Linked DNA regions of Homo sapiens. The protein of the gene in region 3 interacts with the protein of the main gene of each other region in a pairwise test. Each region holds a gene or a part of one and is shown on either strand. Other genes may lie near its edges.

Region 1 (5,680 bases), 8.4 Mb from region 3:
ACAGGAGGGGTGGCACAGCCATGGGGCAGGGAGGCCAGGGGGCACAGTTGAACCTGGGCAGAGACACTTTGAATTTGGGTGCAGGGGGTGAGACTCTCTTGCCTAATGAGTGCTCTTGGAGACCGAGGACAAACCTTCACCAAATGGGCTAAGACCACAGGTTGCAGCCTTGGGGCTGACGGCGACCATGGGCCTTTGTGAAGTGTTGGCCCTGGGATCCCTGGCCCTAACCAACCATGCCAGCTGGCCCTAGACAAGCCAGCCTTGCTTGAACTGGATTTCCAAAGGCCCTGAACGCCGTGTGTGGCCTCCCAAGTCCATGCAGGTCCTCATTTACCCTCCATCCCTACCTCCTCCAACCTCACTGGCTGCCCCCAGCACCAGCTGAAACCCCGGCCCCAGCAAAATCAAACACGAAGGAAGATGGGAGAGATAGTGAGCACTCCATTCCTTTCGTGCCTATGGCCTTTTTTCTTATTTCTGTGGGCCCTGGGCCCCAGCCTGATTTTGGTGGCTGTCAAAAGGAGTTTGCCAGGGCCTGTTGTGAGCAGCCTGTGGCCCAGTGCTTACCCGGGGGGCGGGGGGGGGGGGGTGTCCTCACAGCCCCAAGCACCGCCTGGCATGTACAGTCAATCTATTGAATGAATGCTACCCGCTGGTCTCCATTCTACTCTCCCAGAGAAAGTGTTTAAATTGCTCCACTGGCCAAAGTGCACACTCCTGATTACCCTCTGTGAGTCCTGCCCCGTCCAGAAGTTGAGGACACTCGGAATCTCAATAATGAACAACCCAGGTGCAGGGAACTGCCCCGTGTAGAAAGCTGATGGCCTGGAGTGTGGTCAGAGTGAAAGAGCCACTCCTATATGTTTGATCCTCCAATGACTGGTCCACAGAGTCAGAGAGGGGCAGCCTGCGGGGCACAGGCTGCCAGGGTGGATTCCATCAGAGCAGGTGCTGTTAGCACCCATGACCACCCTGTGCCTCTTGAATGTGTCTGTGTGTGTGCACCCTCCTGGCAAACAGAGCAAAGGGCCAGGAGCTTGGAAAGGAAGTGAGAAGAGCAGGGTGGAGACGTGGGGCTGAGTTTTGAAGGCAAACGTTAGGAGAAGGACTGGGGAAGAGAGGCTCCCTTCTGTTGGCCTAGGAGAGGATTGGTCCAATCTGTAGCCAGGCATGTGGATTAGAGCTGGATCTCCAAAGACGAGTGCCCAAGACCATATTTTAGGATAAGAAAATTAAACTTCTATTTATATTGAATTTTATGTAATCCTTTCAAATGTTTCTACTTTTGCATATTTTACTATATATATAATTAGTCCAATAAAAATATGTATAGTTGATAATGGAAGAATGTACATATATTGAGGATGCATGGCCAAAACAGTTTTTAATGCTGAGATTACACTATCAAGAAAGTCTGGAGACTACTGCATTTCAGAGTTTTGTTTTTGTTTTTGTTTTGAGACAAGAGTCTTACTCTGCCACCCAGGCTAGAGTGCAATGGTGCGATCTCTGCTCACTGCAACCTCTGCCTCCTGGTTCAAGTGATTCTCCTGCCTCAGCCTCCTGAGTAGCTGGGATTACAGGCGTGTGACACCATACCCAGCTGATTTTTTTGTATTTTTAGTAGAGACGGGATTTTGCCATGTTGGCCAGGCTAGTCTCAAACTCCTGACCTCAAATGATCCCCCTGCCTTGGCCTCTCAAAGTGCTGGAGTTACGGGCATGAGCCACTGCACCCAGCCTCATTTCGGGGTATCCTAAGGGCTCATAGAATCCAAAGGTTCTGATAGATAGGTAAATCAGTTAGCCTATGTGTAAATCAACTGTCCTCTGTGTAAATCCCTGAGGTACAGAGAAGTGAAGTGACTTGCTGGGGCTGCACGAAGTACAAGGAACATTCCAGACCCTCTGAGACCTGCCTATCCAATCATCCACGCATCCATCCATCCACCCACCAATCTCTCCATCCATCCATCCATCCCTTCATCCATGAAGCTTTATTTTATACTTCAAAACAAAATCAAATGTAAATTATGCTTCAATAAATCCTAGCCAAAAAAATTAAAAACAAATTACGAGTGTTTAACTGGTATGCATCACTGTGCATATATAGGCACGCATCCATCTATCCATCCATCTGTCCCCACGCAGCAGGTATCTGTCCTGTCGTGGTGATCTGCTGGGTCATCTTCCCTACCTCCAGGCCATAGCATCCTTCAATCCATCCGTCTCTCCCCACTCTGCAGGTATCTGTCCTGTCATGGTGATCTGCTGGGTCATCTTCCCTACCTCCAGGCCGTAGCATCCTTCAGAGTCCTCCATTCCTTCCTGTCTCACCTTGCTCCACTTCAGTTCCTTTTCACCCTGATCCTAAATCAATACTATAACTTTTAAATGACTCTCCCTGCTTCTAGCCCTTCCTGGCCCAGTCTGTTCCAAGCACCACTGCTAAATCAATCTTCCAAGTACTCTTGAGTGACTGCAGATTGCCCTTGGTCATGGCGCCCAGTCTGAAATTCTTGGCCCAACCCAGAGGCCCACAGCATATGCCCTGTATTGTGATTCTGTCTTTTGGAGTTAGTGGCTTCTGGAGAAGCTTTAGTAAATTATGCTTCAATAAATCCTAGCCAAAAGTAATAATTAAAATGATGTGAGTGTTTAACTAGTATGCATTACTGTGTGTATACACTCATGCATGCATGCATGTGTATGCTGAGAGCCTGTGTCTGACAGCGTGTGTGCCTGAGCAGGGCGGCAGCTCCAGTGCTCCTGAGGGTTGGAAATCCAGCCGATGATCAGCTGCTGAGCTGTGCACCCTGCCTTGGGGGCCACAGCATTATGCGAGAGGAGGTGCCTTTCTCTATTTCACCCAAGCCTCCAAGCTCTTTTTATTGTCTTCTCAGGTGCTTTCCTCTCAGAGGAAAAGAACACAGCCCAAAGCTGAGGCCTGGCCCAGGTAAAATAGTGAATAGGGTGAGGAAGGTGCATTTTACCAGCAGCAGAGAACCCTCCCGGCTTTCTCCAGCCAGATGTGTGAAGGTGTGAGGGAAGGGGTGACTCTCCAGGAAGTATCAACTGCAACAGAATGTCATTTCAGAGTGCAGAGGTCCTTATGGGTTTTCTCGTCCAACCCTTCATTTTATCAGGCCATGAAACTAAGGGTGTCATTTGCCCTGAGCTTCCCATCTGGATTGGAAAGAGCTTTAAAACCTCTCTCCTCTCTCCCACCTCTCAACTGCTTCCCTTCCAGAGCTCCCCTTGGTAAGTCTGTGCTTTCTCCCCTACAGCCTGGAAGCTCCGACCCCAGGAGCCAGCCCATCAACCTGAACCATTACGCCACCAAGAAGAGCGTGGCGGAGAGCATGCTGGACGTGGCCCTGTTCATGTCCAACGCCATGCGGCTGAAGGCGGTGCTGGAGCAGGGACCATCCTCTCACTACTACACCACCCTGGTCACCCTCATCAGCCTCTCTCTGCTCCTGCAGGTGGTCATCGGTGTCCTGCTCGTGGTCATTGGTGAGGAGCCCAGCCTGCAGTCAGACCTTCTGCCTCGGCACCCGTGGCTGGCAGAAAGGCCCCACGTGTCCCCTGGGCCACCCTGCATTGGCACAGGCAGCTTTGCAACCACACGCTGACCTGCAGTGAGCCCTCCGCTAACAGAGGCCCAAAGACCAACTTCCACCCCGCGAGGGCAGGCGCCCTGTCCTGTCTCCTGGTATCCCATGGAGCAGACCCTCCGCAGTACCTGCTGAATGACTGCGCCAGCACCTCGCTAACTGCTAACTCACTCACTCGCTCACCGCTTCTCCATGAGCACTCGTCCCCACGCTTACAGGACCCAGCTTAAGTTCCCAAATCCTGGTGGGATGAAGCACACTAGGGTGCCCCATTGTACTGGTTGGCGAGGGCAGAGGCATCTCAGCCCGATGACGACCACCTCCCTTGATTTCTGCCACATGGGTTTCTGAAGGGCCCCTCTCTCCAAACTCTGGTGGGTGTTGTGGGGGCAGCTCCGTGCTGTGGCCCCGTCTCTGACCCTTTCCCCCCACTCCACTTCCCTGCAGCACGGCTGAACCTGAATGAGGTAGAAAAGCAGTGGCGACTCAACCAGCTCAACAACGCAGCCACCATCTTGGTCTTCTTCACTGTGGTCATCAATGTTTTCATTACAGCCTTCGGGGCACATAAAACAGGGTTCCTGGCTGCCAGGGCCTCAAGGAATCCTCTCTGAATGCAGCCTGGGACCCAGGTGAGGGAGGATGGAGGAACCCCAGCTCCAGGGACTCCCCAGGTGGCCCTTCTCTCTCCTCTGGGGCTTTGGGGCAAGAAACAGATCCCTTGCCAAACAAAGGGGGAAGGCCTGTAGCTCCGAGAGCAAGGAGAGGATCTGCAAGAGCCTGGCCTCAGCGAGGCTTGCACAAAGCCCCACTGCTGTGTTAATGGCTCTCTGCTCTCAGGCTCAGGTTTTCCCACGGTCTGGGACAGGGTGGAGGCGATGCCATTAGTGGTTGACTCTGCCCCTCCGGCAAGAGGAAAGGTGGAGATGGGGAATTTCTCCCTGCCATTGTCTAGCAGCTCTTGCTACTGACTGTGGTCCATGGGTCAGCAGCATCCACAAACCACCCAGGAACTTGCTGGAAATGCAGAATCTCAGGCTCTGCTCGAGCACGTGCTACAGGCACGTGCATGAGTAACGTGGCCAGGTGCATCCTGGGCATGCTGAAGGTTGAGGGGCATTGATCTGGCCTGCCATCCTCATTGCCTCTTCTCTGCTTCCTCAACAGGTTCTGGGCCTGGAACTTCTGCCTCCTTCCTCCGTGATCTGCCAGGCTCGTGGGCACTTTCCACAGCCCAGGAGAGCTTCTGAAAGGACAGTATAGCTGCCCTTGCTCCCTACCCACAGCACCTGAGTTAAAAAGTGATTTTTATGTTATTGGTCTAAGGGACTTCCATCTTGGTCTGAAGTCCTGAGCTCAGACGCAGGTACTGCCAGCCATACCTTCCTGGTAGCATCTGCTGGACCTAAGTAAGGCATGTCTGTCTAAGGCCAAGTCTGCCCGGCTTAAGGATGCTGGTTCTGACTCTACCCCACTGCTTCCTTCTGCTCCAGGCCTCAATTTTCCCTTCTTGTAAAATGGAATCTATATCTATAAAGGTTTCTTCAAATCCACTCTTGAGTCCACTTACTTGTCTAGTCCTGCAGGCTCAGGCATCCAGGCTGGTCTCCATCTGTGCCTTGGAGAGGGCTCAAGAGAGCAAACCCCAGACCTGGAGGGTGGGAAGGCTTTTAAATTACTTCCTCCTCTGTGGGTTCTGCTCGGAGCCAATGTTCCTGGCCCAGATGTCTTGCGCTTATCGTCATCTGCCCCATGAACTGTAGATTAGTCCATTGCAGGTGGATGCACATATGCACAATCTTCTCCACGAACCTGCTGTAAGCTATTCTGGCTTTCAGTCTCAGCTTCCCTTAGGCATGTGTTTAAGGACTGCAAACTCATTTTGATCTTTGCCTGGGCCAAATATAACGAGGAAGGTAAATCTGTAAAGCATTAGCAAAGCATTGCCAACTCAGAAACAGAAATGATTTTTAGAAGGTCTGCCAGTTTAGAAGCAGCCACTCGTTGGCTTCTCTCCACTGCTCACCAAACCGTTCTGGCCCTATATCTAGCCTTCTCCA
Region 2 (7,395 bases), on a different chromosome or scaffold from region 3:
CATTATATTCTCTTTGTCTTTTCTCCTTCTTCCTACAAAGTTAATATCACATGGATTAAGTCAGAAGACTCACAAGGCTTATATTATTCATTCATTTGTTTGCTCATTTATTGATTGATTTAATACATATTTATTGAGTTCCTGTATGCACCAGGCTCCATGCTAGGTATTGAAGGTATAGTAGTGGGCAAGCAAACGCAGTCCCTTTTCTCGTGGAGGGAGAATTCGAGAGACACAAACACATGAGAATATGTAACTATAAAAATATGATGAGAACAGTGAAAAAAACAAGGAGTGTCATGAAAGCGTGCAACAGATGGGGTGGTTAAGAAAAGCTTCTCTGAGAAGACGACATTTAAGGCAAGGCCCGAGAGATTATGTAGTGGACATTCACTGGTTTTGTTATCCTTGATCAACTTTCCCTTCTTTGGTAACAATGCCCTGATGATTATGTTTGGAGGCTTTCATTCAAGGTGTCCTGTTCTTCTCTGGCTGAGGGTAGGCATGTGGCCAAGCTAACCAAGGCTGACGTTCTTCTAGGGTTTGGAATCTTGAGTGGAGTGATGCAAAAACAGAAAAACCAGAGTGGCTTGTTCCACTGGTTGAGCCTCAACAAGGTGTCTGTTAGGAATCAAATCTCCATAAGATTCCTGAGCTGTTTGGTCTTTGAGCTTTCCAAAACTTGGCTGAAGAGACTGAGAGCTACCTCTATGTGCACCAAATTTTTTTGTTTACATTATTTCCCAAATAATGTACCACAGAACTCTAATGGGTTCTGGAAAGCGGGATTTAGCAAAGTGAAGAGTTTGGGAAAGAGCACGTCAGTGGAAGGAACAGCATGTGGAAGGGGCTTTCTGTGAAGAAGAGAAGAGCTTGCTGGTTTGGGGAACAGAAAGAAAGCCAGTTGGGCAAAGTGTGCTGAGTGAGGGGCAGAACAGTACCAATATCTCTGTAGGGGCAAGCTGCACCAGACCTCATGGGGCCATGTATAATCGTTTAGATTTTATCACCAGCACATAGGAAAGTTACAGACATATTTTGAGCATGGGAAGAATATTTTAAATAGCAAAAATGTCACAAAGGAAAAACAGAAGAGTTCAACTAACAGCGTAAAGAACTGTGAATTGGTCATCCCAGTTCTGCTCTGAGCCAGCTCCAGGACCTTGGATATTTGTAAGGCTCTGATGATTTCTCTTAGCCCCAGTTTTCTCATCTGTAAAATGAGGTGGTGGGTTAGATGATCTCTAACTCCATCTCTGATGTTTCGTGATCTATGATAAAACCATGCCAATAAATGTAATTGTCATTAAGGAGCTTACAATCAAGTGGGAGAGATAAACACACCTAACCTCTATGATACCTGCTGTTGATGTTCCAGGGAGTTCTAACGTTTAAAGCTTTTGGTAGCTTACAAGCTGATTTTGCCAGCCCATTGTTATGTTGACTGCCAAAGGATTTTAAACAGTACTAGGCTCAGTAACCAATTCAATGAAGAACTTTCAAAGAGGGTATTTACATGAAGTGTGATGCTCTGCTAAGCTTAGATTTAGTGACTTCAACTGAATGCTTCATAACAGAAAACGCTAGCAAGAGTACTGATTCTTGGGTGAATTTCATCTAGAACTTGTAACTGCAGGAGTGCCTGTGAGTGATCTGTGTGTCAGTTATCTATTACTGTATAACAAACCACCCTAACACTTAGTGATTTGAAACAACCACCATTTTATTTCTCACAATTCCTGGGTTGGCTGGACTATTTTTGGCTGGCTTTCCCTGGAGCTCACTCATGTGGCTGAGAGCTGGTGGGCTGCATAGCTGGGACAGCAAGGCTTTCTCTTCTCAGGGTCTTTCCTCTTCAAGGAGTTGGACCAGGTTTCTTCATGGCAGTCTCAGGATAGCATTTCAAGAAAGCAAGGAGCAAGGCACAAGTGCACATCGAAAGCCCCTGCTTGTGTCATATTTGTTCATGTCCCAGTAGCTAAAGGAAGTCACAAGGCCAACTCCAGGGTCAACGTGGGAGGGAGCTACAGAAGGACAACTCAGTAGGGGTGATTCATTAGAAGCCATTAGTGTAAAATGTGTAAACTTTTCCTCTGAGACTTGCATTGCAAGATACACAACTCTAACCTATAAAGGATGACACTTTCTTTTTCTTTTCTCTCTCTCTCTCTTTTTTTTTTTTTTTTTTTTTGAGACAGAGTTTCACTCTTGTTGCCCAGGCTGGAGTGCAGTGGCATGATCTCAGCTCACTACAACCTCCGCCTTCTGGGTTCAGGTGATTCTCCTGCCTCAGGCCTCCCAAGTAGCTGGGATTATAGGTGCCTGCCACCACGCCCAGCTAGTTTTTGTATTTTCAGTAGAGACGGGGTTCATCGTGTTGGCCAGGTTGATCCCGAACTCCTGACCTCAGGTGATCCACCCACCTCGGCCTCCCAAAGTGCAGGGATTACAGGGGTAAGCCACCACGCCCAGCCAAGGATGGCACTTTCACAGACACAATATCTATGTTATTACTACTATAAGGGAGCATGTGGAGTCACCTTATTAAGGGACTGAGTCCTACATCAGTGGCTCTGCTTGCCTCATAAAATTATTCATTAATTTTTAGCAGTGGCCTTGGGAAGTTGTGTACATAATATTTAGAGGAAAATGGCATTTACAATGATAATGAATTAAAGCAATTCACACGGCAGTACCACTGCCCCAATTTAAACCTTGAGGCTTGCTAATTTCATATTTAGCTGCATCCCATATGCTCCCAATCCCTCTGCCCTAGTGTGGAGCTACAGCTCAAACTCCTTTGAAGGTAGGAAACTTACCTCACACACGCGTGTTCCCCTCATTCTTTCAGCGCATAGAACACTAAAAAGATGCTCCTTAAATACATGCTAAATAAACTGATCAATAGTTGCCTTTTATTAAATATCTTTGTGTTTCAGGTATTTCCTTATTTCCTTCACAGACCGGATCATGAATGATCTCCCAATGTGACAAGGTCTTATTCTCCACAGTTTACCGTTGAGGGGACTGAGGTGCAGAAAGCCCAAGGTGTATGCAGCCCAATCCCCTCTGATCCCACTCTACTGCATTGCTGCCTTTTGTACGCAGCAGGAAGGACACTTCCTGTAAAAATGAAAAAAAAAGCCTTAAGTTGTTTGAGAGAGGGTCAGGAAGAAAACAGGAAGAGCCAGTAGACTGCAGGTGCTTTCAAAGGGCTCCCTGTCTTTGACATCCCTAAAATAAAAACTTGTTAATTAAGAGATTGGCCACAGAAATCCAGGTGGAAAACCTGCAGAAGAGTGGGTTCCACAATTCTTCAAAACAGAACAAAAAAACCCCAAGACTTGTTATATTTTTACCGGTGGAGGGGAAGAGGTTACAGGAGTGGCCTTGCTCCCCGGGCTGGCCTTGCTGAGCAGGTGACAATACCACACATATAAAGGTTTTAAGGTGAAAAGGTAGTCAATATTTTACATTTCGAAGATAGTTTTTAAAATCACCTACTGCATCAGTAGTAATACAACAATAACTACCATTTACATACCACCGCACACATCGGGGCTGCGTAAAGAACTTTATAGTGCACCATCTCAATTAATTCTCACAACTCTGTGAAGTAGGTTTTATTATTCTTAATTTATAGACGTGTTCACTGTGGGCCAGGGAGATGAGCTTTCCCGCGATTGCCCAGCTTTTAAGAGGTAGATCTCAAACCTAAACGTGTTTGACCAAAAGCCCTGAATAACATTTAGCCGTGGGCCTCTTGCGGATTTGGCGCTGGTCCGAGGTGGGGAATTGTGAATCTCATTTATTTATGCTGAGCTGCGCACACATATGCACGTGTAAGTTACAAAAAACAAATCCAGGTCAGGATCTCTGTCCGCTTGAGGTTTCAAAGCCTACTTGGGTAGACAGCGGTAAAAGTCTCAACTCATTCATCTACTCGTTTGCTCTCTTCACAAGTATTTATTGCGCACTTCAGTATTCCAGACAGGGCGCTAACCTTGCCCTGGAGGAGAGAATGGTGAACACAACAGACATGGCGTTTGCCTCCAACTATCCCCTTTCCGATTCTGCTATCTCACGGGCGAGGCGTTCAAAGAAGCAGGAAATATATCAACAAGGGGGTGACTTAAGCACCCGCTGCGCGGGAGCCGGAGGAAGCGCGCTGAGCCTGCAGAGGTGGTCAGGGCGAACTTCCTGGAGGCAGCGGCAGCAGCAGGCCGGGCGAGAACCCAGGTCGCTCGGAAGCGACAGTCTGAGCCGGGAACGGGGAAGAGGGGGCGGGAGCCGAGGCCCGGGCGGGGGCAGCCAGCGAGTTAGGGTTAGGACGGGAGGATTCGGCTTCCCGGCGGCAGAGGGCGCCTGGCGCTGCGGTCTGGCGCGCCAGAGTCGCCCGCGCGGGCGCCGAGAGGAGAGGCGAGGCGGGGAGCGCAAGCGGCGGCGGCCACTGCCACGTATTCCCGGCAGTGGTGGCGGCGGCGGCGGCGGCGCCCGCGGGCAGGTGGGCTGGGAGCGGCGCGGCGGCGGCGGCGGCGGGGCGGGCGAGCCGGCGGGCGGGCGCGGGGCACGGGGCACCGGGCACCGGGCGGGGGTGCGGCGCCGGGACAGTACGGTTCCCGCCACGCCGGCTCCGCCTCCGCGCAGTGCTGCTGACCCAGGCCTGGGCGCCCGGCGGGTCCCGAGCGCAACTCGTGCGGGCGGGGTTGGGGGCCCGAGGGACTCGAGCTCGCCTGCCCGTCGCGGCTCGAGACGCTGCATCCCGGTTGCTGCGGGGCGGGGGCTGGGAAAAGTTGGGGCGGACCGCGAGCCCGCGGGGCCGGGCGGGAAGTGCGGGTGCGGGGCGGACTCAGGGGCCGGGGGACGCAGTGCAAAGGGCTTGGGCCGGGGCGGCCGGGAGGGCCCCGTATGGGAAGGTGGGAAACGCGGGTCCTTTGAGGACGCCGAGAAAGGGGTGCGCTCAGGGTCTCTGGGAGTGGACAAGAGTCCGGCGGCGGACCTTGCGGGTGAGAAGGGTCGGCGCCTGGGGGTCGGGGAGTAGAGGTGAGGCGGGGGCGGGATAGAGCCTTCCTCCTCCCCCGTTCTTTCGGGACCGACCCTGAGACCCGGGGCAGGCTCCGAGCTGGGTACGCCTCTGGCATCTGAAGACCCAGTGGGGAGTTCCTGTACGGGGTGGGTGGAGGAGGGAGCTGAGCGTTGCTTCCTCTGCTGCTGGGGCCGACTACCGCCCCTCCCCAGCGGCCAGATTCACCTCAGACTGCAGTGCTTTTGCCCTGAGGAAGTTGAGGAGGGACAGCTGAGCGGATGAGATGTTTGGGGTGTTCCAAGATGAGTGGGATTAGGCTGCATGATATCATAACTATCTCCGGGAGCTGTCAGAAAACACTCCCATGTCCTCATACACCCACCCATCCACTCATCCAGTCAGTACTGCCAAGCTCCAGGCTCCCTTGCTCTTTAAGTGACACCTCTAGATCCCCAGAGCCCAACAGCGCATCTGCTCACAGCCTCGAGGGTGGCAAGGGTGGAAGACATGGCCTGCTAGTGTCTGCGTAGGTTGGTGCTTTCAGAAACAAGTGGTTCTGGAGGTGCTGGATGCTTTATTAGAACAACCTGTGTGGAGCCCGTTGACAATGCAGATGACTCATGTTGGCTTTTTTTTTTTCCCCTTTACAAATAAACTTTGTATTCAAGACACCAGTATGCCTGGTCATTTGCAGCAGTGATACGGCAAGAGACCCATAGTGGGCTTCTTGAGCCCTTATTCTCGTCCTAGATGTGTTAGCAAGAAGTTTGACCTTGGATGAGTCACTTGCTCTCTCTGGACTTCTGTTTTCTTATCTGTCACATGGGGTATAAAGAGAGAGCTCGACAGTGTGATGTAGACAGGAGTAGGTTTCTGAGGGACACAGTGAAATCTTTTTTCTTGTAAGGCTGGATCAGCCACAGAAAATAAGCCTTAGCCTGTTCTTATAAAGAAATTAGCTTAGATTTAAAATAAAATATGAGAAGAAATATTGCAAAAAGCAAAACAACAAAAAACTAATAGTAGTTGGTACTCGATTTACAACATGAATACTGTTCTTATGCTTGCAGTTAGTGTACTTGGTTGTCCAGCTATCTACTATAAAGTTGCTCATTGTGCTTAGAAAGTGTGTATTTCACCTGTGGACCCGAATTTTTTCTTATTGTTTAATCTTCAAGCTTGGAGTGGACGCTCAAGCTTGGAGTTGGATTGGTCCTGCTGGGGTTTGTCTGAAGAACATCCTCAGGGTCTCTCATTGCATAATATTATAGGTTTCCTTCTGTCTGACTGATGCTGGGGTCCTTGTACAACTATGCTTCTGCCATCTTTTCCATTCTGGCTTGAGAAGTGGTGAGCTGGTTCCTCTTGCCTCTGGCATGCCCAGACTTCTCATTTCTTTTCAGATGAGTGTAGTAAAAGGCAAGCAGTGAGTTAGAGGCAGCACATTAAAAATTGCTCCAGGCAATCATCTGTGTCCCCTCCACCCCGCTCCTGTCCCCTAGACCCCCTGGGCAACTTCTCACTAGAGCTTCCTGGTCATAAGCTGGCCTTGACATTTTGGGTGCTGAGGGCCATCACAGCATTGAAGTGACTTGGCCAGGGTCACACCACACATTAATGATCAAGCCATGGTGCTGGAAGAAGAGGAATTTTTTTTGTGTGTGTATTTTGTCATAACTGAATGTTCCTGTTCTTGTCCATTAGTAGCTTTCAAAATCCATATTGGGTTTGACCACATCATTTTCAGTAATCCTTTTTTGTCAGCTTTTTGGAAGCTGCAGTTAGTGGTTCTCTCTGAGTTTGAGGTAGTGGTATTTTATTATTAAACAATTTTTTCCAAATATTTTTTAAACTACTTTCCTTTTCAGACCAGATGAGGTAGTGTTAAAAATGATATCTTCTCCAACAAGTAAAGGCTTGATTAATTAGGTTGAGTCTTTAAAATATCTAGTGTTTGTGTGTGTATAAATTTTACTTTAATTGAGAAGTATTGATAAAAATCATAATCGTCACCATTTGAGCCCCTGCCATTGAGCAGGCATTGTGAGGTAGGAGTGAGCATCATTTTACAGGAGAGAAAACAAAGCCAAGAGATGGCACGACTCTGGTACAGCTGTCGTGCATAAGTTACTGATGATCTTTCAATCCATGTACCATTTTGTTAACAGTGGAAAAGGAATTCTCAGCTATCCTACAGGGTTGTGCTAGTTAAATGAGATACTGTATGTGAAGAGCAACAAGTAAACTCTTAACGGGCTCCCTAACCCAGCACATTTTAACATAAACACTTGTAGACTCTGGAAGCAGTGTGGTGAAGTGGTTAAGTTCAAGCGTCTTGGGAGTCTGGCAGGCCTGGGTGTAAATACTGA
Region 3 (6,815 bases):
TCATTTCCCTCTTCCCAACTTTGTAGTTTGTTCTGAAAGACTCACCTATACATTAGACTACAAGTTACATATAAATGAATTTTCTGCTGCAGATGCTCTTGTTACAGAGATATTAAAATGTACTATGTGTTGCATATGCCAGAGAATCTTGTACTTTCTGGATAATTAAAATACCATCGATTTATTACACATTCATACGCTTTATCTCTTTCCTCTCTCTCCTGATCCTACCTGCCCTCCCCAACACACACTCTCTCCCAAAGGATGTTCCCTTTCTACAGCTGCTGGAGGACTGGACTGCTACTACTACTCCTGGCTGTGGCAGTGAGAGAATCCTGGCAGACAGAAGAAAAAACTTGCGACTTGGTAGGAGAAAAGGGTAAAGAGTCAGAGAAAGAGTTGGCTCTAGTGAAGAGGCTGAAACCACTGTTTAATAAAAGGTAAATGAGAAGAACCTTAAAGAGCTTGAGAAAATATTTATGTTAAAGTCTTTTCTTCTTACTGATTTTATTTCATAATGTGCTCTCTTTTATGACATAGAGCAAATTCTCAGCCCAGTTTTTAGTTGCTGTGTGCAGTTTTCTCATCTTTCACAGAAGTGTAGCTATTTCCAAGACTGGATCCAAGAGACCAGCTTGTAGAAATTTAAGGATTATTTGACACCTACATATAATAGGACTTTAGAAATATCAGATAAACATATTTAGGCCGACACATGTCATTATAAGTGTCAGGAACCTTCAGATATATAAATCTGAAGTTGGTCCCTAAGAAACGAGACTATCCGATGAACATGGGCCCTTATTCATTGGAACATGGTTACTAACAGGCATTCTAAAAATAACTAGAATATTGAGCTATCAAGATAGCTCAAGTGTGTTTTAATAATTCATCATCAGCAATAAGGATGGTCTGTCAAGGTTATGAATATCTTAAAATTAAACAAATATTCACTCAGCCATGACCTCAAATAAATAAATCGAGCATGTTGTTTGTTTTGTTTTAATTAAGGAAAGGGATGCTGTTATTCCTGAGGCTGATAGCTAGTAACTCTCCTCTTCTTTCTTCCCACTTCTCTTTACAGCTTTGAGAGCACTGTGGGCCAGGGTTCAGACACATACATCTACATCTTCAGGGTGTGCCGGGAAGCTGGCAACCACACTTCTGGGGCAGGCCTGGTGCAAATCAACAAAAGTAATGGGAAGGAGACAGTGGTAGGGAGACTCAACGAGACTCACATCTTCAACGGAAGTAAGAAAACTCCCCTTCCTACCATCGATTGACTAACTGATCCCAAGTCAATCCCTCTGACAATCCTGTATGTCTTGGCCGTTTCTAGTGTCTTCAGCATATCATACGTGTGGTTCGGCACACCTGAGACTGTAATATACCACAGGATGCCTAATTCCACAGCTCCTCTGTAAGCCACAGCTCAGGACAGTTGTGCATTAAAATCAGTGAAAAACTTATGCAAAATGAAGACTCTAGCCAGAATTGTTTTGTTTTGTTTTGAGACGGAGTCTCTCTCTGTCACCCAGCCTGGAGTGCAGTGGCACAATCTCGGCTCACTGCAACCTCAGCCTCTTGGGTTCAAGCGATTCTCCAGCCTCAGCCTCCTGAGTAGCTGGGACTACAGGTGTGTGCCATCATGCCCAGCTAATTTTTGTATTTTTAGCAGAGACAGGGTTTCACAATGTTGGCCATGATGGTCTTGATCTTTGACCTCGTGATCTGCCCACCTTGGCCTCCCAAGGTGCTGGGATTACAGGCATGAACCACCGCGCCCAGCCAACTCTAGCCAGAATTCTGTAGCCTAGAGTCCTTTTATTCACCCAAATACTTTTAATGAGTTTCACACTAGACTTACAAATACCAACCACCACCACCACTTTTCATCAAATTAATCAAAGTTTACCAGTTAAATTTTAAGAGCTCAAACTTTTTTTTGCAAACTACTCAGTCTGCAAAACTTTACCCACTGATTTTTGTGCTATGGTGGTGATATTTCTTAAAAGTCATATTGCTGGAGAGGACCATGTAAGCACCTATGGTCCAATTCCCTCCCATACAGATAAATAAGTTATACAAGGTAGCTATTTACTCCTGGTAAATAATACAATAAAAAAGTAACAAAAGGGTTTGGGGCTGGGGATCATGTGACCAGGTTCTCCTCCTGTTTCCTAATCCTGTGACTGGAAAGTCGTATCACCTTTTGACCTTGTTTTCTCATATGCAAAACTAGGAGCAGAATCTTTACCTTATTCACCTCACAATTACTGAATCAAATGATATTTTGCAAAAGAACTGAACACAGTAAATACTAAAGAAGAGATATGCATTCCAATCTTAGATATCCACTCTGAATTTATCTGGGGCTAAGTTGAAATCTTAGATGGGCTTACCCCTGCTGCTCAGCAATTGTATGGAACCTCTTTTTTTGCTTTTAGAAGGTATTCAGAAAATGAATCAGTGTTAAGGTATGGATCATAATTGGTTTTGCATTGTCAGTTGCCTACCTTTAATGTTAAAAATTAAGATTATTCTTAAATGAATATCTGATTCTTGTCTTAAGGGAACACAAGTCTTTGTAAGCAAACAAGTTTAGCTTGGCATTTCTGGTATACCAAGTTCGTACTGATGAGGGTTGTTTAGTTATAACCAATTGCAATGAATTACGCAATTCCACTCTGCCATACCACCCAGATCTGCCTCTGCTTTTCCCCCACCCCATAGCTCCATTTTCCTTGTCCCTCCTCAGGTAATTGGATCATGCTGATCTATAAAGGGGGTGATGAATATGACAACCACTGTGGCAAGGAGCAGCGTCGTGCAGTGGTGATGATCTCCTGCAATCGACACACCCTAGCGGTGAGGCACCCTGTGTTGTATAAGCCGAGGGAGGAGACTGAAAGGACTGACCTGAGGTTGGGGAGAATATCCAGAGGGGACACGATACGTTGGGATGGACATTAGAAAACTAGGAGCTCAGTTTCTCTCTGTGTCAGACACGCATCTTCCATGGAAAATAGGCTGCTGAACCAGGAAGGAGCAGATGTTTTTTGGGTTTTTTATTTTGTTGGACAGGAGTCAAAACACTTAACCACCTGAATGTGTTATGCCATCTCATCATCAGGACAATTTTAACCCTGTGTCTGAGGAGCGTGGCAAAGTCCAAGATTGTTTCTACCTCTTTGAGATGGATAGCAGCCTGGCCTGTTCACCAGAGATCTCCCACCTCAGTGTGGGTTCCATCTTACTTGTCACGTGAGTATGCCTTCCTTTATCAGAACAGACCTTCCTTCCTTTTGTTTTTAAGGTCAGTAACTATATGGTGGTACATAAGCACAAATTGTATGTGTACATTATGCTGTAATTGATGGGGATAACTTTTTAAATCCTCTGGCTATAAAATAATTCTGCCAGGACACAGGGCTCACGCCTGTAATCCCAGCACTTTGGGAAGCCAAGGCAGATGGATCACCTAAGGTCAGGAGTTTGAGACCAACCTGACCAACATGATGAAACTCCGTCTCTACTAAAAATACAAAATTAGCCAGCACAGTGGCACATGCCTGTAATCCCAGCTACTTGGGAGGCTGAGGCAGTAGAATCACTTGAACCTGGGAGGTGGAGGTTGCAGTGAGCTGAGGTCGCACCACTGCACTCCAGCCTGGGCAACAAGGGCAAAACTCCGTCTAAAAAAAAAAAAAAAAAAAATTCTGACTGCAAGTTTTTGAAAAATGAGATTTAATGTTTAGTTGCCGGTATAGATTTGCATTTGGAGGTGCTTTTTTCCCCTACTGCAGGACTAGGCAATTTTTATATTATTTCATTAGATTATGAGAACTTCTAGAGAAATGGAATCATATACTTAATGGTGATTATTCTTGGCCATAGAATCACACGCTGTCACATTTTGTCTGGGCCTTTGCTTCTCTTGGACTGACAGCACTCTAACTGGTTTTCTAAGAGTTACCAGCCCCCTTTTTCATTTAGTATCACTACTCATTTTTCCTTTTCAGGGAATGTATCTTAGGAAACAGCTGACAATAAATGCAGAGGTTATCCTATCTGAGTTTTTACTATTTCCCAGTTCTTAAGTATAGATGTCTTTCTCTCTCTACAGGTTTGCATCACTGGTTGCTGTTTATGTTGTTGGGGGGTTCCTATACCAGCGACTGGTAGTGGGAGCCAAAGGAATGGAGCAGTTTCCCCACTTAGCCTTCTGGCAGGATCTTGGCAACCTGGTAGCAGTAAGTAACAGGGCAGCTGGTTGAATTTGTAGCCTGCAAACAAGGTTGGGTGACCAACCATCCTCGTTTGTTCACACTGAGGGGGTTCCTGGGACACAGGACATTGAGTGCTAAAACCACAAAAGTCCCAGCAAACAAGACAGTTGCCCTAGTACAGAGTAGTAAGTGGCACAGCATCCATTTCTGGCCTTGGTAAGACATTGCTGAAAGAGCAACACTGTTGACCAGATGGGCTCTTCTAAATCTGATTTAGCTTTTAAGAGGGCCTGGGTGGGAAGAAGGTGAGGCCTAATAAGAAGAAACTTTTTCTCCTGTTGCCCCAAATTGAATTTAGGCTGATTGTCAGATCTTTTAGGTTTTCTCATTATCCCTATAGAAAACCAATTCTTGCCACATTCCTAGACCATAAGTACACTTTCTCATATCCTAAAGTTAGATGCTGCGAATTATTTCCTTCTTTTTTTTCCCCCTACAGGATGGCTGTGACTTTGTCTGCCGTTCTAAACCTCGAAATGTGCCTGCAGCATATCGTGGTGTGGGGGATGACCAGCTGGGGGAGGAGTCAGAAGAAAGGGATGACCATTTATTACCAATGTAGATTGCACTTTATATGTCCAGCCTCTTCCTCAGTCCCCCAAACCAAAGCTACACAGCCAGATTTCTCAAGCAGTCTCAACTCCAGTCCCTCATCTCACCCTTACTATTGCTCTTGCTTTCCAGTTTGCTTTTGATTTGCATCTTCTCACTAGTAAAACTGCCTTCCCTTTGTTCCTTATTTTCTGTTTTTTCTCTAGAGAGGTACAGTTGTAAGTCAGAGTTAATATAATAGGGCCTGTGAAAACAGAGGCTTTTGCATTGTCTCTTGACATCAGAAGTTACAATAGGCATATGGGCAAAATGGTGTAGCAGGCTCACTGGCCGTTTGTTTTTTAAACACATTTTCACAAGTTTTTGAGACACTGGATTTCTTTAATTAAAAAAAAAATGCCAAGAAACATTATTTATACAGGGTTGATTGCTTTCATGTTGTTATTCTGTACCCTATAGTAGCCTCCATGAGAATCTGGTATTTCTTGCTGCTTGGAACTACTTTGCAGTGATTACTTGGTTGCAGTCCAAGTACTCTCGTTTAGTCTGAGCCTGGAGATGTTCTAGACTTGCTTCTCCCACCTCTGAGATTAGGACAGGAAAAATGTGAAATTTCCCAATTACAGGATTATACGGTACCATCACATCATTTGTGGAAATTGGGGTGACTGTATAGCTGGGATTGGGCTAAGGACTGTGGTCTTATCTGTCCACATACAGCCAAAATGCCTATCCAGAAATCCAGTTCGTTGGAAAGGAAAATTGGTACTCCTGTGCCACAGGGGTTCCAGAAAAGGGAAGTCACTTTACCTTGCGGTGGTGGGATCCTGATGTCTTTCATCCATTTGTAGTAAAAGCTGGTAAAGCTTTTCTTACTCCTGGTTCCCTACCAGTATTTCTAAACATGTCGCACTTTCTCCACAGGCATGTGGTTTTGACCTTTTTTTCAATCTTCTAGAAAGGGAACGGAAGCAGAAGTGGGACATCGAGGGCTCTGCTGTCCTCTGCGCTGGGTGTGGAATGCTGCTGCACCTGTCCCTTCTGCTGGCTCAGGGAAGTGTCTTCTTGCCCACATTTCTGTGGGGAAAGGTTTTTAATCCTCTGATGCTTCCATCTTCCTGTTTAGGCCATGTGCCCAGAAACCTGGACTGATCTTTCTTTAATAGTGAACCCCTGGGCCACTGAAGAGTAACATGGCTCCACTGGACACAAAAGAGGGATGGAATCAACAGGCAGGGGGCCTTTTATAAGCCTTAGGAAAAGAAAATGAAACTATTTCATCTTTGGACTTTTCAATACTATTGGAGTGATTTTTTTCTTTCTAAACAGGGAAAATAATGTTACAAAAGCATCTTTTTTGTTATTTGTTTGCATCCCTCCCCCACACCCTGGTGTTTTAAAATGAAGAAAAAAAACCATCACCTTTTGTACAAAAACTCTTAATGATTAAAAAACAAACAAAACATATTGGCCTTGTCATTTGTGTGAAAGTGGGCAAAGACTGGAATAGAGTAAGACAACTGAAACCAATTTTCATCCTTTTACTGAGGAAAAAAATATTTAATATTTTTGTTATATAAGGAATAGTGCCTAAGGCAGGTACTTATACTCCTGACCTCAGCCCCACACACTCTGGTTTTATAAAGCTATAGGACAGAGCAGAGATGGAACTGAAAAACAGGGTAGAAAATAACATAAATTGGAGGGGAACAGTGGGATGCAGAAAGAATGACAACAGCCACATGTGCCCCAGTCAAATACTTTTAGTCCCTGCAGCAGAAGATGCCAACCAAGTCTCTATACTGGCTGGGGATCCTGCCATGGATGCAGGAGAAAAAATTCAATCACAAGGGAGTAAGTGACAACAAAAAGAAAAAACTCTGAGCCACAGCTACACTGGGAGGGGGGAGGACCAGATTTTGCTACTTCTGTCACACAAGCTAGAAAAACCCTACCTCTCCCATTGGGCAGGCA

What was found.
Region 1: the proteins of M6PR (region 3) and NINJ2 interact in binary tests that used the Homo sapiens proteins (3 or more experiments, as listed by UniProt).
Region 2: the proteins of M6PR (region 3) and SMCO4 interact in binary tests that used the Homo sapiens proteins (3 or more experiments, as listed by UniProt).

Annotation. Positions count from the first base shown.
Region 1 is NC_000012.12:563,789-569,468, reverse strand, and holds the end of NINJ2 (ninjurin-2), read left to right. Parts: intron 1-3,290; coding exon 3,291-3,519; exon of another isoform or gene 3,520-3,864; intron 3,865-4,067; coding exon 4,068-4,234; 3' UTR 4,235-4,252; intron 4,253-4,787; 3' UTR 4,788-5,173; downstream 5,174-5,680. UniProt on the Homo sapiens protein: Its role in unclear. In contrast to NINJ1 paralog, does not mediate plasma membrane rupture (cytolysis) downstream of necroptotic and pyroptotic programmed cell death.
Region 2 is NC_000011.10:93,540,385-93,547,779, reverse strand, and holds the start of SMCO4 (single-pass membrane and coiled-coil domain-containing protein 4), read left to right. Parts: upstream 1-4,388; 5' UTR 4,389-4,504; intron 4,505-7,395.
Region 3 is NC_000012.12:8,939,854-8,946,668, reverse strand, and holds the end of M6PR (cation-dependent mannose-6-phosphate receptor isoform 1 precursor), read left to right. Parts: intron 1-263; 5' UTR 264-264; coding exon 265-440; intron 441-1,084; coding exon 1,085-1,251; intron 1,252-2,758; coding exon 2,759-2,868; intron 2,869-3,084; exon of another isoform or gene 3,085-3,115; coding exon of another isoform or gene 3,116-3,133; coding exon 3,134-3,264; intron 3,265-4,126; coding exon 4,127-4,253; intron 4,254-4,728; coding exon 4,729-4,851; 3' UTR 4,852-6,308; downstream 6,309-6,815. UniProt on the Homo sapiens protein: Transport of phosphorylated lysosomal enzymes from the Golgi complex and the cell surface to lysosomes.